Linked DNA regions of Homo sapiens. The protein of the gene in region 2 purifies or fractionates together with the protein of the main gene of each other region. This does not show direct contact. Each region holds a gene or a part of one and is shown on either strand. Other genes may lie near its edges. The genes, in order: ZBTB4 and ZBTB17.

Region 1 (3,806 bases), on a different chromosome or scaffold from region 2:
CTGTCGCCCAGGCTGGAGTGCAGTGGCACAATCTTGGCTCACTGCAACCTCCGCCTCCCGGGTTCAAGAGATTCTCCTGCCTCAACCTCACGAGTCACTGGGACTATAGGCGCGCGCCACCATTTTTTTTTTTTTTTTTTTTGAGACTGAGTCTCGCTCTGTCGCCCAGGCTGGAGTGCAGTGGTGCGATCTTGGCTCACTGCAAGCTCCGCCTCCCGGGTTCACGCCATTCTCCTGCCTCAGCCTCCGGAGTAGCTGGGACTACAGGCACCCACCACCACTCCCGGCTAATTTTTTTTTGTATTTTTAGTAGAGACGGGGTTTCACCATGTTAGCCAGGATGGTCTCCATCTCCTGACCTTGTGATCTGCCCACTTCGGCATCCCAAAGTGCAGGGATTACAGGCATGAGCCACCGCGCCTGGCCAGGCCCGGATAATTTTTGTATTTTTAGTAGAGATGGGGTTTCACCATGTCGGCCTGGCTGGTCTTAAACTCCTGACCTCAGGTGATCTGCCCGCCTCAGCCTCCCAAAGTGCTGGGATTACAGAGCCTGGTCAATTATTTATCTTTTTTTGAGACAGGATCTTGCTCTGTTGCCCAGGCTGCAGTACAATGGTGAGATTGAGGCTCACTGCAGCCTTAACCTCCTGGGCTCAAATGATCCTCTCACCTGTCAGCCTTCTGAGTAGCTGGGACTACAGGTACCTGCCACCATGCCCAGATAATTTTTGTATTTTTTGTAGAGATGAGGTTTCACCATGTTCCCCAGGGCTGGTATTGAAATCCTGGTCTCAAGCAATCCGCCCAGCTCAGCATCCCAAAGTGCTGGGATCATAGTGGAAAGCCACTGCGCCCAGCTCCTATTTCTTATTTATCTCTGGAATGTAAGCTCCAAGGGGTAAAAGGTAGGAATGTTTTTGGTTTTGTTTTGTTTTTGAGATGGATGGCATCTTGCTCTGTTGCCCAGGCTGGAGTGCAGTGGCATGATCTCTCTCGGCTCACTGCAACCTCTGCCTCCTGGGTTCAAGCAATTTTCCTGCCTCAGCCTCCCAAAAACCTGGAACTACAGGCATATGCCACCACACCCGGCTAATTTTTATATTTTTAGTAGAGACAGGGTTTCACCATGTTGACCAGGCTGGTCTCGAACTCCTGACCTCAGGTGATCCACCCGCCTTGGCCTCCCTCCCAAAGCGCTGGAATTACAGGCATGAGCCACCATGGCCAGACTTTTTTTTTTTTTGACATGAGGTCTTGCTTTGTCACCCAGGCTGTAGTGCAGTGGTGTTACCACAGCTCCCTGCAGCCTTGACCTCCCCTAGGCTCAGGTGATTCTCTCATTACAGCCTCCCAAGTAGCTGGGACTACGGGCATATGCCACCACGCCCAGCGAATTTTTTGTATTTTTAGTAGAGATAGGGCTTCACCATGTTGCCCAGGTTGGTCTCGAACTCCTGGGATCAAGCAATTCACCGCCTTGGACACCCAAAGTGTTGGAATTACAGGTGTGAGCCACAGCGCCCGGCCAAGGGTAGGGAATTTTGTCTGCTTTGTTCATTGCCGTATCTGAAGTCGTTAGAATAGGGCCTAGCACGTAATAGGTGGTAAAAACAAAACAAAAAAACTGGTAAATGAATGAACCTGTCCTCAAAGTCCATCCTCCAGGATGGAAGCCATCGTCCACGCTGGACTGAGTTGGCCTGGAGATAGGGATGACAATTATAACTTGACCACTTCTGGGCCAGGCACAGTGGCGCACACCTGTAATCCCAGCACTTTGGGAGGCTGAGGCGGGCAGATCACTTGAGGTCAGGAGTTCCAGACCAGCCTGGCCAACATGATGAAACCCCATCTGTACTAAAAATACAAAAATTAGCTGGGTGTGGTGGTGCACGCTTGTAACCCCAGCTACTCAGGTGGCTGAGGCAGGAGAATTGCTTGAACCGGGGAGGTGGCGGTTGCAGCGAGCAGAGATTGCGCCACTGCATTCCAGCCTGGGCGACAGAGTGAGACTCTGCCTCAAAAAAAAAAAAAAAAAAAAAAAAGGCCAGGTATGGCCAACTCACGCCTGTAATCCCAGCACTTTGGGAGGCCAAGGCAGGTGGATCACCTGAGGTCAGGGATTGACCACCTGCCTAGCCAACATGGTGAGACCAGCCTGGCCAACATGGTGAAACTTGGTCTCTACTGAAAATAAAAAATTAGCTGGGCGTAGTGGCGGGCGCCTGTAACCCCAGCTACCCGGGAGGCTGAGGCAGGAGAATCACCTGAACCCGGAAGGCGGAGGTTGCAGTGAGCCAAGATCATGCCATTGCATTCCAGCCTGGGTAACAAGAGAGAAATTCCGTCTCAAAAAAAAATTAAAAGAAACCATAAATAAGTTGACCACTCTGGAGTCCTCACAATTTGCCTCATACTCTTCTTGGGGCCTCACACACATTACCTCATTTAATGATATTCTCAGTACAGCCACCCACAATAGGTTTTATATTATCCTGTTGCCCAGGCTGGAGCGCAGTGGCGTGATCTCGGCTCACTGCAACCTCCGTCTCCTGGGTTCAAGCAATTCTCCTGCCTCAGCCTCCAGAGTAGCTGGGATTCCACGCCCAGCTAGTTTTTTTATTTTTAGTAGAGACAGGGTTTCTCCATGTTGGCCAGGCTGGTCTTGAACTCCTGACCTCAGGTGATCCACCTGCCTTGGCTTCCCAAAGTTCTGGGATTACAGGCATGGGCCACTGCGCCCGGCCATATTATTCTAATTTTACAGAAGAGGAAACCGAGGCTCAGAGAGGGATATACCTTACTCGAGGTCGCACAGCTTGTAAGCAGCAGTCAAGATTCGAATCCAGGCCCAGCTGACCCCAGATGCTCAATCTTTCCCTCTGCCATACTGCTAGACCTGGCCCTGAAGAGGCCTATGGCCCGCCAGCTGGTTACATAAACCACCGCACAAGGTCTCACGTGCTAAGTGCTAAATGTGTCATGTCTGACTCCACCCTTTCCCTCACTTCCACATCCAGCAGTCATCAAGTGTGGCTGAAATCGCCGCCGAGCTTGGGAATGGCTCTGGAAATCTTCCCTTCGATAGCTCAGGTCCTTGTTAACACTCACGTGGTCCAAGGTTATGGCCTCCCAGCTATCCCCTGGCCTCCAGGCTTACCTTCCTCCATCCAGCCCTCCTCCCCCTGAGGGTCAACGTCCCTAACCACAGTTCAGGACTATCACTCCTGGGCTCAAAACCTCCACTGGTCCCCACTGACTCTAGAAGAAAGTTCAAATTCTTCTACCAGGCAGTCAAGGGCTCTGGTCTAGCTCCAATCTTCCTTTTTAATCTTGCCTTGTGTTATCCTCTTCAAACACACAGTACTCAGCGTGAGCCAGGCGTGATGGCAGATACCCATAGTCCCAGCTACTCAGGAGGCTGCAGCTAGAGGATTGCTTGAGCCCAGGAGTTTGAGTCCAGCCTGGGCAATATATTGAGACCCAGTTTCTAAACAAATGAACAAAACCCCAGACACCCAGTGTGCTCTCCAGCTTCTACATGACCCACACCTTCATGCCTTTGCCTGTGCTGGCTTGTTCTGCCAGAAATGCTCTTTCCCCAAGCTTGTCAAAATCCCTCCAAAACGTTAAGATCTGACTCCAAGGCCACCTCCTTCTTGGCCCTCCCTGATCCACAGGATGAGAACGATCATTCCTTCCTCTGACTCATCAACCTTTTGTGCTCCTATGGCCAGCATCCACCTTACACAGCAGCAGAGACTCAGGTTCTCATGCCCTCAGCTGGGGATCCCTGAGCATCCG
Region 2 (4,039 bases):
TTCCATCTGCTCCCTTAGGCCCATCAGAGCCAGGGCAGTGGCCTGGGCCTGGCACTCTCCTTGGCCTACCTTGCCACTCTGGCTGGAAGGACCCCTGAGCCAGGCCTGGCAGCAGTGGCCTGTGAGCCAGGCTCGCTCTGGGTTGCCTGTACCCTGGTAAGCAGTTGGTGGCCGCCCCTGCTGGTCCCTTCCCCAACTTCCCAACCTCTCCCCAACCTGGGCCGAGGGGGAGCAGGGTCATAGCTGTGGGGCGAGGGGAGGCCAGGCCCTAAAGATGAACAGGTGAGAAGCCTCCAAACAAGATGGGATGAGGGCATGGGGCACGTGGTGCCGAGGTCTCTCCAGCCTGAGTGTACTGCCCACTCCTCAACTTGGGGCAAAGCAGCCAGCCTGGCTCTGATTCTAGTCGCATTCAGCAAGAGGGACGGGCTGACCTTCCCAGGAAGGCTGGTTCCTGGGTGGTACAGCCTTTCTGTGGCATCAGTTGTAGCTGCCAGCTCCCCACCCACCCCACAGGGACCTATAGGCAGCATTAGAAAATAATCCAATTTATTCTCTCTAGGGAACAGGCCACCCTTCCCGGTTCCAGGGTGCCATCCATCCTTAAATAAACAGTCAGAAGGGCCGCCAGCTCACTCGGCAGGCGGGGGACATTCAGGAGCTGTAGGGGAGGTCTCTGCCAGTGCGGGCTGGCCCTCAGCCCCGTCGCGAGGGCGGAAGACCAGCTCCCCAGCCTGCAGCACCTGCCCGGCAGGCCACGTGCCACCTGGCCCATACTGCTGATAGAAGTCCGCGTCTGTCTGGAACATGACCAGTGCCTGGGCTGTGTGGATTCGCACATGCTGAGCCAGGCTGTTGGCATCCAGAAACTTGTCCCCACAGGAGTCACAGGCGTAGAGGATGTGAGTGTTGGGGTCTGTGGAGGTGGGGCAGCAGTCAGAGTGGGAAGGACCCCGGGCTCTGCCCACATTCACACCCGGGTGGCCCCCCTCACCTTCTTCCTGCACTTGCTTCACAGCTTTGCTGATCTCGGCCTTCAGGACTTCCGTCTCATCGGCTGTCACTGCAGCTCCCACCGGCACCACTGCGGGCAGAGTCGCAGGGCCTAAGGTGAAGGCACGGGCACTGCCCCATCATCGCCACCCTGGCAGCAAGCTGCCTGTGACTTCCCTCTGCTGCCCACAGCCCGCACCTGTGAGCTGAGTGACGGCTGTCGCTGCCAGTGCCTCGGTAGCCAGCGTGACCATGTCATCCACAGTGACCACGCTGACCTCACTGCCCTCCTCGGGCTCCAGGATCTTGATGCCTGCCTTGCCCTGGTGCACGGTCTTCACGTGGGAGCGCAGGTTGTCTACCCGGTTGAAGCCACGCCCACACTTATCACACAGGTAAGGCTTCTCTCCTGGGGGAGCAAGGTTCTCTCTTGCCTTTGTGGGAAGGGGCCGCAGGGATGGGGTGGGAGGCCCTCAATGACTCGTTTGCCCAGCAACCCTGTCTTTTACAGCAGGAGGTGCTCTGGGGTGGCTGCACGGGTGCCTCTGGTGACACTGGCACCTCTGGAAGCTCTAGGAAAATGGGGTCCTCATTTGAACAGAACTGCCTTCAAGGCCACCTGCAGCAAGAGCTAGCACCCGAGGCTGGGGTCTGGGGGGTCCCTTCCTTCCCCCTGCTCCCCACCTGGCAGCAGGGCCTGGGAAGGAACAGGCATGGTAGGGGCCACAGCTCACCAGTGTGAATGATGATGTGCTTGGACAGGTCCCCCACGTTCACGAAGGCCTTGCTGCACACGCTGCACTTGTGTGGGCGGATGTTGTCGTGGTGGCGAATATGATTGGCCAACTGGCTGGACTGGACGAATCTGTGGGGCCACAGGAAGGGACTCGCATGGAACTGCCCCAACCTGGGCCTCCTGCCTCACCCTCTAGACTGAAAAGGACCCCTAGGACCAGAGCCTGGGGCGTGGGCAGCAGTCAGCTCAGTCCCCAGCCAAGCCCCCAGTTTGTCTTCTGAGCCCCCTCACTGTGGGGTGTCTGGCCAGTGGGTGTGGGGGAGGGGGCAGGACCTCTTGCCGCAGCGCTCGCAGACGTAGGGCTTCTCCCCGGTGTGCTGGCGCACGTGGGCGATGAGGGAGCTGGCCTGGGTGAAGGCCTTACCGCACATCACACACTGGCATGGCTTCTCACCTGGGGACCGGGCAGAAGGTGTTGGTGCCTGCTCCTCTCCGTGCCCTCCCAGTCCTGGGCATGGCCGCTCACCACCCACCTGTGTGAATGCGGACGTGCCGCTGCAGAGCGCCGGGGTCTGCAAACTGTCGCTGGCAGTGGATGCACACGTAGGGCTTCTCCCCGCTGTGGATCCGAAGGTGCCGCTTCAGGTTCCCTGTGGCGAGACCGAGGGCGAACCTGGCGTGGGGCACCACCGGTGGCCGAGGAGCAGGGGTGTGAGGGCAGCCAGGGCAGCCCTGGCCCTACCTGAGGTGGTGAACTGCTTCCCACACTCTCGGCACTTGAGGGGCCCGTCAGCGATGTGGATCTTCAGGTGGGCCTTCAGGTTCCCTACCTGTGCCCAGGGAGGGGTCAGGGGGGCCACCCCACAGAGCTCGGCCCCGGGCCCCCTCACCTGCCCCTCCCACAAAGGAACAATTGACTCTCAGGCTTGCCAGGGTCCGTGAAGGGCTCTATCTCTCCTGGGTCAGGAGAGGTCCCAGGTCCCAGCGGTGAGAGGTAAGCCGCCCCACCCCATTTTTTCAGGACCAAACCCCGCCCTGAGTCGGCCTGCCCTCCGCAGAGCAACCGGGAGCTCCCCCGCGGAAGTGGCTCTCGCTGCGCCTGTTTCCTGGGTGAACAAGCTGATGAGCTCCTGGAGGCCGGGGCTGTGCTCCCCGCCCGCCCCACCACGTGGCATGCATGCGGCTGCGGCCACCGGCGGCTGCCAGGCGCTGGTTCCGGGAGGGGTCCGCACACCTGGTTGAACTTCTTGTCGCAGTGTGGGCACTTGTGCTCCTTGTCCGTGTCGTGGGTCTCCAGGTGGCGCATCTTGGAAGTGGGGTCGGAGAAGGAGCGGCCGCAGTAGTCGCACTGGTAGGGCTTCTCGCCGCTGTGCACCAGCTGGTGGCGCTTGAGGTTGCCCGAGGTGGTGAAGAGCTTGCCGCAGTCCTCGCAGCGGTAGCGCGCCTCGCCCGAGTGCCGCTTCTTGTGCAGGTTCAGCAGGCTGATGAGGCGGTAGCTCTTCCCGCACTCCTCGCAGCCGTAGGGCTTCAGAGGGCTGCAGGGCCAGAAGGCGACAGGAGGCAGGGCTCGCTGGGGCGTGAAAGGCCGGGCCTGGCAGGGGCCGGGGTAGGAGGCCGGCTTGGGGCAGTACCTGTGCGTCTTCTCATGGGCCTTGCACGCGGCCGGGTCGGAAAAGGCCTTGCTGCACTCCCGGCACGAGAAGGGCTTCTCCCCCGTGTGGATGCGGATGTGCCGCTTGAAGTTCCCCGTGTGCGTGAACTCCTTCCCACAGTCCTGTGGGTGCAGCGGGGAAGCGGGGTGTGAGGAGCAGCCGGTGGGAGGCCGGAGGGGAGGGACGCTGGCTGGGAGGGCTGGCCATAGTCTCCCTCACCTCGCACTTGTGGATGACGGAGCCGTAGGCCTTGGACTCCGTGCGGTCGCCGTAGGTGCCTGAGCGCAGGCCCCGGGCCTCGGAGCCGAGCTCCTGCCCCGAGTCTGTGCCCGCTGACTCCTCATTCTCGTTCTCCTCGGGGGCCTCTCCGTTCTCCAGCTGGGAACCCTCCTCCTTGACCTCAGCTGGCCCTGCGCCCTCCTCCTCTTGCTCCTCTTGCTCCTTTTGCTCCTCTTCCCCTTTCCGGGCGGGCTCCACCTCCATTTCTGCGGAGAAAAGGGCAAGCATGGAGGCGGCAGCCCTCTCTGCCTGAGCGCACGTGAGGGGCGCCGGCAACATGTGGAAGGGACAGTAAATGGCCCCAGCACTGGCCAAGGAAAGCCCCCGGGGGGGCCTGTGAACTGGGTATTTGCTGCTTGCGGGATGCAGGTAGGGGGCT

Evidence for each region.
Region 1: the proteins of ZBTB17 (region 2) and ZBTB4 purify together in Homo sapiens (affinity purification with western blotting; one study listed by BioGRID). This does not show direct contact.

What each region holds. Positions count from the first base shown.
Region 1 is NC_000017.11:7,472,989-7,476,794, forward strand, and holds part of ZBTB4 (zinc finger and BTB domain-containing protein 4), read right to left. Parts: intron 1-3,806. UniProt on the Homo sapiens protein: Transcriptional repressor with bimodal DNA-binding specificity. Represses transcription in a methyl-CpG-dependent manner.
Region 2 is NC_000001.11:15,941,337-15,945,375, forward strand, and holds the end of ZBTB17 (zinc finger and BTB domain-containing protein 17), read right to left. Parts: intron 3,867-4,039; coding exon 3,601-3,866; intron 3,504-3,600; coding exon 3,361-3,503; intron 3,265-3,360; coding exon 2,964-3,264; intron 2,560-2,963; coding exon 2,472-2,559; intron 2,380-2,471; coding exon 2,263-2,379; intron 2,184-2,262; coding exon 2,063-2,183; intron 1,859-2,062; coding exon 1,728-1,858; intron 1,403-1,727; coding exon 1,193-1,402; intron 1,106-1,192; coding exon of another isoform or gene 1,085-1,105; coding exon 995-1,084; intron 917-994; coding exon 633-916; 3' UTR 533-632; downstream 1-532. UniProt on the Homo sapiens protein: Transcription factor that can function as an activator or repressor depending on its binding partners, and by targeting negative regulators of cell cycle progression.